Linked DNA regions of Homo sapiens. The protein of the gene in region 1 purifies or fractionates together with the protein of each later gene. This does not show direct contact. Each region holds a gene or a part of one and is shown in the gene's direction. Other genes may lie near its edges. The genes, in order: NUP214, RANGAP1 and MX2.

The links.
Region 2: the proteins of NUP214 (region 1) and RANGAP1 purify together in Homo sapiens (affinity purification with mass spectrometry, with the first as the bait; one large-scale study listed by BioGRID). This does not show direct contact.
Region 3: the proteins of NUP214 (region 1) and MX2 purify together in Homo sapiens (affinity purification with mass spectrometry, with the first as the bait; one large-scale study listed by BioGRID). This does not show direct contact.

Annotation. Positions count from the first base shown.
Region 1 is NC_000009.12:131,191,509-131,195,159, forward strand, and holds part of NUP214 (nuclear pore complex protein Nup214), read left to right. Parts: intron 1-699; coding exon 700-784; intron 785-3,651. UniProt on the Homo sapiens protein: Part of the nuclear pore complex. Has a critical role in nucleocytoplasmic transport.
Region 2 is NC_000022.11:41,258,617-41,262,267, reverse strand, and holds part of RANGAP1 (ran GTPase-activating protein 1), read left to right. Parts: intron 1-687; coding exon 688-822; intron 823-3,651. UniProt on the Homo sapiens protein: GTPase activator for RAN. Converts cytoplasmic GTP-bound RAN to GDP-bound RAN, which is essential for RAN-mediated nuclear import and export. Mediates dissociation of cargo from nuclear export complexes containing XPO1, RAN and RANBP2 after nuclear export.
Region 3 is NC_000021.9:41,396,467-41,400,117, forward strand, and holds part of MX2 (interferon-induced GTP-binding protein Mx2), read left to right. Parts: intron 1-1,146; coding exon 1,147-1,225; intron 1,226-2,430; coding exon 2,431-2,553; intron 2,554-2,729; coding exon 2,730-2,871; intron 2,872-3,651.

The DNA of each region.
Region 1 (3,651 bases):
TGAAGATTGTACCCAAACTATAAGTAAGTAGTTAGAGTGAAATCGAACATGGGGAGAATGATGGATTGCACTTTTAACCTTTTTGCATGTCTCCATATTATAGCAATCATGTTTTACATCTGTAATTTTAAAAAAAGAACACGATTATTTGTTAAATGCCAACAAAATCTGTGGAAAATGCAGAAATGTATATAGAAGTAAACAGCCTTAAAGTCACTACTCAGAAATATTTAGCTTATGAACCTATTTCTCTTTTGGATTTTTGTCCTTCAGCATAGATTAATTTCAAATAATTATAAAGCTACATTATATATAGTTTTATTTACTTTTGTGGGGAGGGGGCTTAGCCTCACATTATAAGCATTTTCCCATACCATTGAAATATATAAGAGTGTACTTTTAAAACTGTACATTTAAACTATACTAGAATTATTTTGATATATTTTCTGTAAAGGAGAAGATGGCACACCTTAGACTGGAATTAACATTGACAGAGCCACGGAGCAATTTCAGAGACCTCAAACACAAGTGAGGCAACGTGCTCACTCCCCATGGCCACTGACGTGTCACAGAAGGCACATGTGGTGCTAAGCAGCACCTCACAGGCTGAGCTACAGGGAATTATACACTGGAACAGTGTTTCTGTCTTTTTGTAATATTCTTTTTTTTTTTTTTTTTTTTTTTTTTCCATAATTTCAGGGACAGCCAAGATAGAAACAGCTGTGACTTCAACCCCATCTGCTTCTGGGCAGTTCAGCAAGCCTTTCTCATTTTCTCCATCAGGGTCAGTAATGAACTTAAGTTTTATGGCAAATTACTAGCAATTAGCTTCCCCAAATCTTACAATTATAGATATATTTATTTACTTATTAAATGTGTATGAACCCAGAGTTCTTACCGTGGCAGTAATACATGTGATGATAGTGGCAATAGTTTAATGTTCTCATGTAAATCGATTTTCCCTTTGCAATTCAAGTTAATACTTGTTTGTTACATATTTGTGTATCTGTTTTGTTTTTTAGCCTAAGCCTCATTTTCTTTGAGTAATGAGTCTGCTAAATTCTGTAGTTCATCTAGTTTGTCACACTGAGATGTTTCCATTCTGACACCATTTTGGGGGCTAGATGTGACATTCAAATTGACTTTGCTGGACAAACATGGTGGCTCATGCCTATAATCCTAGTGCTTTGGGAGGCCAAGGTGGGAGGGATTGCTTGAGGCCAGGAGTTGGAGACTGACCTGGGCAACATAGTGAGACCTCATCTCTACAAAAAATTGAAAAATTAACCAGGTACGTTGGTTCACTTCTATAGTCCCAGCCACTTGGGAGGCTGAGGTGGGAGGATCCCTTGAGCCCGGGAGTTCGAGGTTACAGTGAGCTATGATCACACCATTGTACTCCAGCCTGGGCAACAGAGTGAAACCCCGTCTCCAAAAAAAAAAAAAAAAAAAAAAAAAAAGGCTTACTGCATCGAGAGTACAGTATACTAAACTTAGAGAATGTAATGAAAGATAATAGGCATTTGAAATTTGAGGTTTTATATAGATGTGGAGGAATCTGTTTCCGTTTCTTTAAAAAATAATAATAATAATGATGGCTGTACTTGTAAAGTTGAGTTGTTTTTAAAAATGAAAGAATCTTCTATACCTTATCTCAAGATGAGCCTTTGTTAAGGTGCCTGTTCTCTGTGCCCTGAGCGCTCATGTTGAAACCTGTGTGAGCTGCTGAAGCATTGGGTTAGACTCTGTGGAACTGAGATCAAAATGTGTCAAAAGGATTTTTTGCCATTGAAGCATTGTGCATTCAGTTCCTTAGAAAAGCCTCTTAAGTTCTTCAGTTTATGCTTTTGTAACTAGGAGCATATTAACCAGTCTCTTTTTCCTGATTTTAATATATTTTTTGAGTGTCCTTCAGCCTAAGGAGAAAAGAGGGTATTAGAATATTATTTGAGGGGGAAAGTAATACATATATTTTTTCTTTATTATAAATCATTATGTTTTATGCTTCCCAAAGGTAATTTGCAGCAAATTTTAAAGAGTAGGTCAATGCCAAGAATTATTGCATCCTTTACAGATGGCTAATAATCAGTCTTCTGTGAAATGATATTCTTCTTCCTTTTCTTTTTTTTTTTTTTTTTTTTTTTTTTTTTTTTTGGATTTTCAGGCAGAGTATCACTCCGTCACCCTGGTTGGAGCGCAGTGGTGAGATCTCAGCTCACTGCAATCTTCACCTCCCGGGTTCAAGTGATTCTCTTGCCCTAGCCTCCCAAGTAGCTGGGATCACAGGTGTGCACCACCACACCCAGCTAATTTTTGTATTTTAGTAGAGATGGGGTTTTTTCATGTTGCCCAGGCTGGTCTTGAACTCCTGGCCTCAAGTGATCCACCCGCCTTAGCCTCCCAAAGTGCTGGGATTGTAGGCACGAGCCACTGCACCTGGCCCTCTTCCCATTTTTAAAATAACCCAGAAAAGGTGGGGTCATTGAATCAATGGCTTGACACTATTAGATAAAATTTTTTCACTAAGAAAGGTTGTGTTTTTTTTTTTATTTTTAATATGATGGGCAAAGGTGTCTAAGTTATTACATTATTTAGTATATTTGATGTGCTTGGTTCGTTATATTTTAAAGCTAGTTTGAAATCTGCAATTTGAACTTTGCGTGTGTGTGTGTGTGAGATAGAGCAAGATTCTGTCTCAAAAAAAAAAAAAGGTGCAGTGGTACAGTCATGGCTCACTACAACCTCCACCCCCAGGACTGAAGTGATCCTCCTGCCTTAGCCCCCCGAATAACTGGGACTACAGGTGCGCGCCACCACACCTGGCTGATTTTTGTTTTTTAATTTTTCGGTTTTGGTTTTTGGGGGTTTTTGTTTTTGTTTGTTTGGTTTTTGGGTTTTTGTTTTTGTTTTGTAGAAACAGGGTTCCACCATGTTGCCTAGGCTGGTCTCAAACTCCTGGGCTCAAAGGATTAACCTGCCTCAGCCTCTCAAAATGCTGGGATGTGAGCCACCATGCCTGGCCTGAGTTTTTATCACAGTGAATAATCTGTTCTGATTCACACTCGCGTGGGATTTTCTTCCTTAGCTATGGTGTCTTCACTTACAGTGTAAAGAAAACGTACAAAAGGAGAGAGGAGATGGTGAAAGGAGTCACAAAGTTTTTGAACTAGATTTTCCTAGCCGTAAAACTCAGTTCTGTCAAAATGACTGAGTTAGGGCTTCTATTTCATTGTATCCATTGTTTTCCCTAGCAGTGTGGGGCTCTCTGACATGCTTGTTGGTCTTGGAGGGGTTCTGAGAGGCTCTCCCTAGTCTTAAGTGCTTCTGTCTTACCAGACCTTCCTTCTGTCCCCTCACTTAACAGACCATCTGCTCCGGCCACCATTCCCACATGCACATTTGTCATGTGTCTCTACTGCTGCAGCTTTGCTCATCTTGCAAGAAGTCCCCACTCAAACTTCTGCTACAGAAAGCCCAGCCATCCCCCAATGGGCTCTCAACTGCTATCCCTGTCGTATCTCACACACAAACTGCTTCTCTGCTTAGAGATCATAGAGTGGCCTTACTGCTTCTGAGATAGGTGCTTTGACTCTGTTGTCATTTATCTTCTAGATTGTAAATTCCTGAGGGCGGTTTGTATGAATGAATGAT
Region 2 (3,651 bases), on another chromosome or scaffold:
TGCTTTTCCTAATGGTGTAACCAGGGTAGAAGCTACTTCCTGGCACCACACCAGGGACAGGGCAAGCTGGGTGTTAGGTTTTTACCACCAGCAGGCAAGCTCCTGCTGTGCCTGGCCAGCTTTTAGGCACAGGCAGGTGTCAGACAGGTTCGTCTGGACCGTGGACTTGGCAGCTGGCTCCCTTGGACATTGTGGAACGTGGAAGAGAAGCTGGAAGATTTGGGCTTTGGTCCAGAGTCCACCACTTGTTTATTGACCATAAGAAAGTTTCCGTTCCTCTTACCCTGAGTTTCTTCAGCTGGAAAATGGGAGCCATGATTTTCCCACCTAGCAGAGGGCCTTAGACAGTGAAGTGAGCTGACTAGGAAGTCCTTCCCCTGGACCTGGCTAAAAGTTCATCCACTCCATGTGGTCTCTCCCTTTCCTGAGTAGGGCTTGGTCTCCCCGTCTCGAAAGTGAAGCTAAACCTCTCAGGCTGGTGTGACACAGCATTAGAGATAAAAACCTTGTGTAACTGAAGTGCTGGACATATTTAAGGTGTGACTGTTGAGCTGTTAGCAGTCCTGCGTCCCCTGACCTGCACCGATGGGTGGCGTGGGATGTTGAAGAGCAGTTCAGCAGCAGTGGCCACCCCGCTGGGAGAAGGGGCTCCTGCCCATGACCAGGGCCCCTTGCCTTTCCCCACAGATCCTGGCTGCAGCTCTGACCGAATGTCACCGGAAATCCAGTGCCCAAGGCAAGCCTCTGGCCCTGAAGGTCTTTGTGGCTGGCAGAAACCGTCTGGAGAATGATGGCGCCACTGCCTTGGCAGAAGCTTTTAGGGTGAGTGGTTTCTGTCCATCCTGCCCCTGCAGCCTTGAGGTGCACTCGGCATAGTAGGCTGACAGTTCTGGATGCTAATCCCAGGGCTGGCACTCAACCAAGAGACCTGGGGCGTCACGTGCCCTCTCCAAGCCTGTTAACCCATCCGAAAATGAGCCAGAATTCCTGTCGTGCATTTCTGGAAAGGTGTGTGACTTTCCGGAAAGGTGTGTGACTGGCTCCCACTGGTGAGCCAGCCCCTATGGGGCTTCAGGCCAGGCAGGCCACTCTGACCAAGGAGTGTCATCTGCCAGGCTCAGAAGTGGTGAAGTGAGATGGTGCGAGTGCTGACAGTAGCCTGGCCCAGCCACTGGTGTGGGGCACAGAGAAGGAACATACCAGACCTCCAAGACAGGGAGATAGGCAGGGGCAGCCGCAGGGCTCAGGTGCCAAATGACGTGCTCTCAGGTGACCTTATCCCCACTCCTCTTCCACTCTCCTCTCCCCATCCCCGCAGGACATTGCTGAGTCCCCGATCGTGAGTGCCAGCAGAAGGCTACACTTGCCCCTAACAGGACTGAAAACTTTGGGGTCTGTCTCCCTCCTCTCTTTCCTGTTTTTTTTGAGGCAGAGTCTCATTCTGTCACCCATGCTGGAGTGCAGTGCGTGATCTTGGCTCACTGCAGTCTCCGCCTCCCAGGTTCAAGCAGTTCTGCCTCAGCCTCCCGAGTAGCTGGAATTACGGGCACCCGCCACCACACCCGGCTAATTTTTGTATTTTTATTAGAGACGGGGTTTTACCATGTTGGCCAGGTGGTCTCGAACTCCTGACCTCAAGTGATCTGCCCGCCTGGGCCTCCCAAAGTGCTGGGATTACAGGCGTGAGCCACCACGTCCGGCCCCTCTTCTCTTAATTTAAATGTTTTCTTCAGCAAACAGTATCCTAGGAGCATTGCTCATACGGGCCGGAATGTCCTGGCTGCCCATCGAGGCTGTCTGTAGATACCCTTTGCCTGCTTCAGTGCCAAGTGAACATCGCAGAGATCTGCCTTGTGTCTCCCTGCACCCCTGGCTGCAGGGGAGCTCCTGCTGCCTCCTCTGGAGCTGGTGGGGGCCTCACTGCCATCCTTGGATCCCTCCCTGCCGTCAGCCTGCTGTCCTCAGTGCACTGGGAGGAGGGGGTGCGCTGTGGTTGTGTTGAGCCTTCATAGGTGTCCTCTGGTGGGCTTAGAATGGGGGTTCTTAATCCCCCCCAGTATGTGGATAGAATTCAGGGGTCTGTGAACATGGATGAGGAAAAAATAACATTATTATTTATTACTAATGTAGCTAAAATATGTAGTGTGACCTTTGATTATAAATGTAGACAATAAACCTCACAGCATTAGAAAGGCCTGTGACTACCCACATAACAAACAAGCACATGTAGTCCCTGAACCCAAAAAAAAAAAAAATTTTATTGAGGCAGGGTCTCGCTCTGTTGCCCAGGCTGGAGTACAACGGTGCAATCTCAGCCCACTGCAGTTGAAGCTTCCCAGGCTCAAGTGATCCTCCCACCTCAGCCTCCCGATTAGCTGGGACTACAGGTGTGCACCACCATGCCCACCCAGTTAATTTTTGTATTTTAGTAGAGATGGGGTTTCACCATGTTAGCCAGGCTGGTCTCAAACTCCTGACCTCAGGTAATCCACTCGCCTTGGCCTCCTAAAGTGCTGGGATTATAGGCATAAGCCACTGCGCCCAGCTTAAAATTTTTAAAAAAATAAAAAGAAAATCTTGTGACTTTATCCCCAGTGGAAATCACAGGTATTTCATATGAAGTTATAGTTACTGCTGATATATAGAAATATTTCTCACTACATCAAAATTACAGTAATAGTGGACCCACCCCTAGATCTTGTTATTTGGTGCATTAACAAGAAGTTTGTATATCACTACAGCATGCGTTTGGAGTTTTTTCCTAAATGTTTTGATAACTGTTCCAACTGAGTTGATTTCCTTTGTAATTCTGTGTAATTTATCTTAAAATTTTAAAAAAACATTTTTTGAGGAGGGGACCCAGGGGCTTCACCAGACTGCCTGAAGGGTTCATGGCACAGAAAATACTAAGAAGGCCTGACCTGGAGTGTGCCCAGGTTGGCCTTCCTGTATTTATTTGTGGACCACCCGCTCCCCCCATTGCCCTGTGCTGCACTGAGCACCTGAAGACAGCAGAAGATTCCTTGGCACAGTTAAGCCAGGCCAACCCTCAGTCCTGGGTCACAGTGGAGACTGGGACATGGCCCTCTCCTCCAAAGCTCAGGGGCCGATGGGATGCAGACGGAATATAGGCTTTGAATGTAGGCAGGATGAGGACCACCGTGATAGAGGAGGGACCAGGTGCTCCGGGAGCACAGAGGAACGCACACTGGATCGTGGCTGGGGGAATCCAGGAAGCCTTCCTGGGAGAGGAGGTGACCAAAACAAGAGCCCTAGAACTCATATGAGTTAGCCTGTCAAGAAAATGCTGAATGGCTGGGTGTGGTATCTCACGTCTGTAATCCCAGCACTTTGAGAGGCCGAGGAAGCTGGATCGCCTGAGGTCAGGAGTTCAAGACCAGCCTGGCCAACATGGTGAAACCTCCATCTCTACTAAAAATACAAAATTAGTCGGGTGTGGTGGCGCACGCCTGTAATCTCAGCTACTCAGGAGGCTGAGGCAGGAGAATCACTTGAACCTGGGAGGCAGAGGTTGCGATGAGCCAAGATCATGCCATCACACTCCAGCCTGGGCGACGGAACGAGACTCCGTCTCAAAAAAGGAAAAAAAAAGAAAAAAGAAAAAGAAAATAAGGAGGCAGAGAGAATGGG
Region 3 (3,651 bases), on another chromosome or scaffold:
AAGGAGAGCTAATGGGAAAACTGAATTTGGGCCGAGTAGGTCTACGGCTTGCTGACTATGTGATCTTACAATATGGGCCACCTTCTCGGAATTTTGCCTTTCCCATCTTCTCCAGGGGATCCTACTACTGCCTCACAAGATTGTGGTTAGGATTACGTAACACGACATACACAAAGGTCTTGAGCGCCAACAGCCAGCACTCAGTAAACACCACCCGGTTCCTTCTTTCTTCCTCTCTGCTCCTGCTCTGAGTGGATGAAACATACTGTTTCCAATAGCACTGGAGGACATGAGGAGAAGAAAACTCTCCTCCTTGAGCTGGGAGAAGATTTCAAAATAATCAGGCCCATGGTTCTCCATGCTGAGTGAGCAGCAGACTCTCTGGAGAGTTCCTTAAAATTGTGCTAGCTCTGTCCTGCTCTGCCCTGAGGCCGGGGGAGGTGCCCAAGACTTCCTGCTTCTAACAGGTTCCTCCTGGTTGAGGCTAATGTTGCCAGTCCAGGGACCTCCCTTTGCAAACCGCTTCTCAAGGTCTTTGGGAAATCTGAAATCCTTGCATGCCTGCTTGCTGGGAGCCGTCCCTTGCAGTAAGAGGCACTGGCAGTGCTGGGGAATAATCCTGTGTGCTTCATCCTAAATTCCTGCTATTGGCAAACATGCTGCAGCCACGCTGCCTGCTGTGTGGCTGCAGCAAGCAAATGCAGCAAGCTGCTTAACCTTTCTGTGTCTCAGCCTTTCTTGCTCTAAAGTGGGTTGTTAAATGACTAAATGTGTTAATATTTATAAAGCCCTTAGATTGGTGCCTGGCACTTAGTAAGCACCATATATACTTTTGTGATGAGAAATAAAATACTAATCTGGGCAACTCACTTAATCTCCATGAGGCTGGGTTTGTTTTCCTGTAGCTAAGATGACCTACCTCATGAGTTTGTGGGGATGATAGAAAGGGAGGAGGGAAGGAAGCTTCCTGGCCCACAGTTGCCTGGGTGCAGGCTGGTGGCAAGTGTCTTTCTTATGCACCACTTGGCTTTTCTGATGGCACGTGTTGCCCCGGGGAGCTGGGCTCACCTACCACGCACAAAGTCCGGTACTAGCAAGATGGTACACAAGTCCTTCCTGAATGCATGAATGTCTGTCTCATTTCAGAGTTCTCCTGGAGGAGGGGTCAGCCACGGTTCCCCGACTGGCAGAAAGACTTACCACTGAACTCATCATGCATATCCAAGTGAGCCACGTGGGTTGGGTGACAAGTCATCAATACAGCATGCCCAAGTCACTCTCTTGGTCTGGAGTTGGCTAAGATGCCCCACTGATCTGTCCAAACAAGCAAACAAGTACCCTCTGAACACTGTCTCACTCACTGTCACAGGCTCACTGGAAGAACTTCCAAATTGGGGAAGCAACAAGTACATAGTATTAAAACAAATGTTTGAATTGGTCAACAGGGGGGAAAAAGAAGAGAAGGAAACAGTTTAGCAATATAAAAAGGAGTGACCACTGAGAGAGCAAGTTTTCTTTTTTCAATATGTTGTTAATACTTCCTGGTATAAAAAATTTTTCTTGCCAGGCATGGTGGCTCATGCCTGTAATCCCAGCACTTTGGGAGGCTAAAGCCAGTGGATCACCTGAGGTCAAGAATTCGAGACCAGCCTGACCAACATGGAGAAATTCCATCTCTACTAAAAATACAAAATTAGCTGGGCATGGTGGCACATGCCTGTAATCCCAGCTACTGGGGAGGCTGAGGCAGGAGAATCGCTTGAACCCGGAAGGTGGAGGTTGTGGTGAGCCAAGATCGTGCCATTGCACTCCAGCCTGGGCAACAACAGCAAAATTCCATCTAAAAAAAAAAAATTTCTTCTAGCCTCAAACTTCTAAGAAATAATTGGTTTGTAAGAAATAAGTCCATTTTTATGGATTCTCAAAAGCAGACAACTACAGACAAGGGCCTCATGACATCATCGATTATAGAAAAACTTTGGTTTGGCGGTTATTGAGAAATCGAATATTTTTAGTGCTTGCCTAAACCTTCACAAATGAGGCCAAGCAACATGGGAAGATTTAAATGTACCCTTAGAGCAAAGATGATTCCAGATCCTAGGACTTGGCCCATGCTAAATTGTATATCAGACAAAAGCAATGACTTACTTGAGCCAGGAAGCACATACTCAAAGAAAATTTGGTTTGAAGGAGCCAGTGGTTCTCCAACTTTAAGGCACACAAGAATTACCTGGAAAGTTTGTTACAATTAGATTCCACCAGTCAAGGTGGCCTACACATGTAATCCCAGCACTTTGGGAGGCTGGGGCAGGTGGGTCAAAAATTCCAGATCTTCCTGGATGCTTTAAAGGGCTCCTACTCATATACCAAAGAAATCAGTTGGCCAATCTCTTAAGCCGCAGTTTGATTGTTTGCAATTGTTTTGTTTAGAAATCGCTCCCGTTGTTAGAAGGACAAATAAGGGAGAGCCACCAGAAGGCGACCGAGGAGCTGCGGCGTTGCGGGGCTGACATCCCCAGCCAGGAGGCCGACAAGATGTTCTTTCTAATTGAGGTGAGGATTTCCGCAGGACTCCACGTGACACTGCATCCTTCCCTGGTGGCCCTGCAGCTGCCCTTCCCCTTCTTCACCCATGAGATGAGGTGGGCGGGTGGACATCTCCTTGCAACGCCGGTCCCAGTTCTTTCATATGATTTCCGCAAAGACTATTGACTTTATATCATTTTCAGAAAATCAAGATGTTTAATCAGGACATCGAAAAGTTAGTAGAAGGAGAAGAAGTTGTAAGGGAGAATGAGACCCGTTTATACAACAAAATCAGAGAGGATTTTAAAAACTGGGTAGGCATACTTGCAACTAATACCCAAAAAGGTAAGTTCTGGGCAGGGCTCCCTGCAAAACAGGGTGGTATTTACCCAGACCAGAGGCTATGTCCAGCACATGATAAGTGTGCCAAGAGTGGAACACGTCCATCCAAGACCGTGGAACCCTTGGTAATCAGCAACTGTCTCTCAACGAACAAAACCCAGAAATATGGGGCATCGACCTCAGCAACTCAACACAGGGCAATTCCACTGCCTCTGATGTCCTCGTGTCTTGATTTTGTTTTGTTTTGTTGAGACAGGGTCTCCCTCTGTTGCCTAGGCTGGAGTGTAGTGGCGCAATCATGACTCACTGCAGCCTCAACCTCCCAGGCTCAAGTGATCCTCCCACCTCAGCCTCCTGAGTAGTTGGGACCACAGGCATGAACCACCATACCCAGATAATTTTTGTACTTTTTTGTAGAGATAGGTTTTCACCACCATTGCTCAGGCTGCTCTTGAACTCCTAGGCTAAAGCAATCCACCTGCCTCAGCCTCCCAAAGTGCTGGGATTATAGATGTGAGCCACTGTGCCTGGCCTTGCTTCTTGGTTTTGAGGCTAAATGGCATTCCATGCCCACCTGAGGAATTCGCAGAGCAGCCCAGGGTACCTCAGGGCTGCTATCCTGAGTGCCTGGAGGGAAGCCTGTGCCCAAAGCAGGGGTCCAGATGACTCTGGGGGCCAGCCCCACATGAAGGCTCTCCAGCCACTGTTGAATTGAGTGCACAGCTGCCAGCTGGCCATGGTGCCTGTTGTGGACACACCAGGCACGGAGCCTTCATTAGTAGC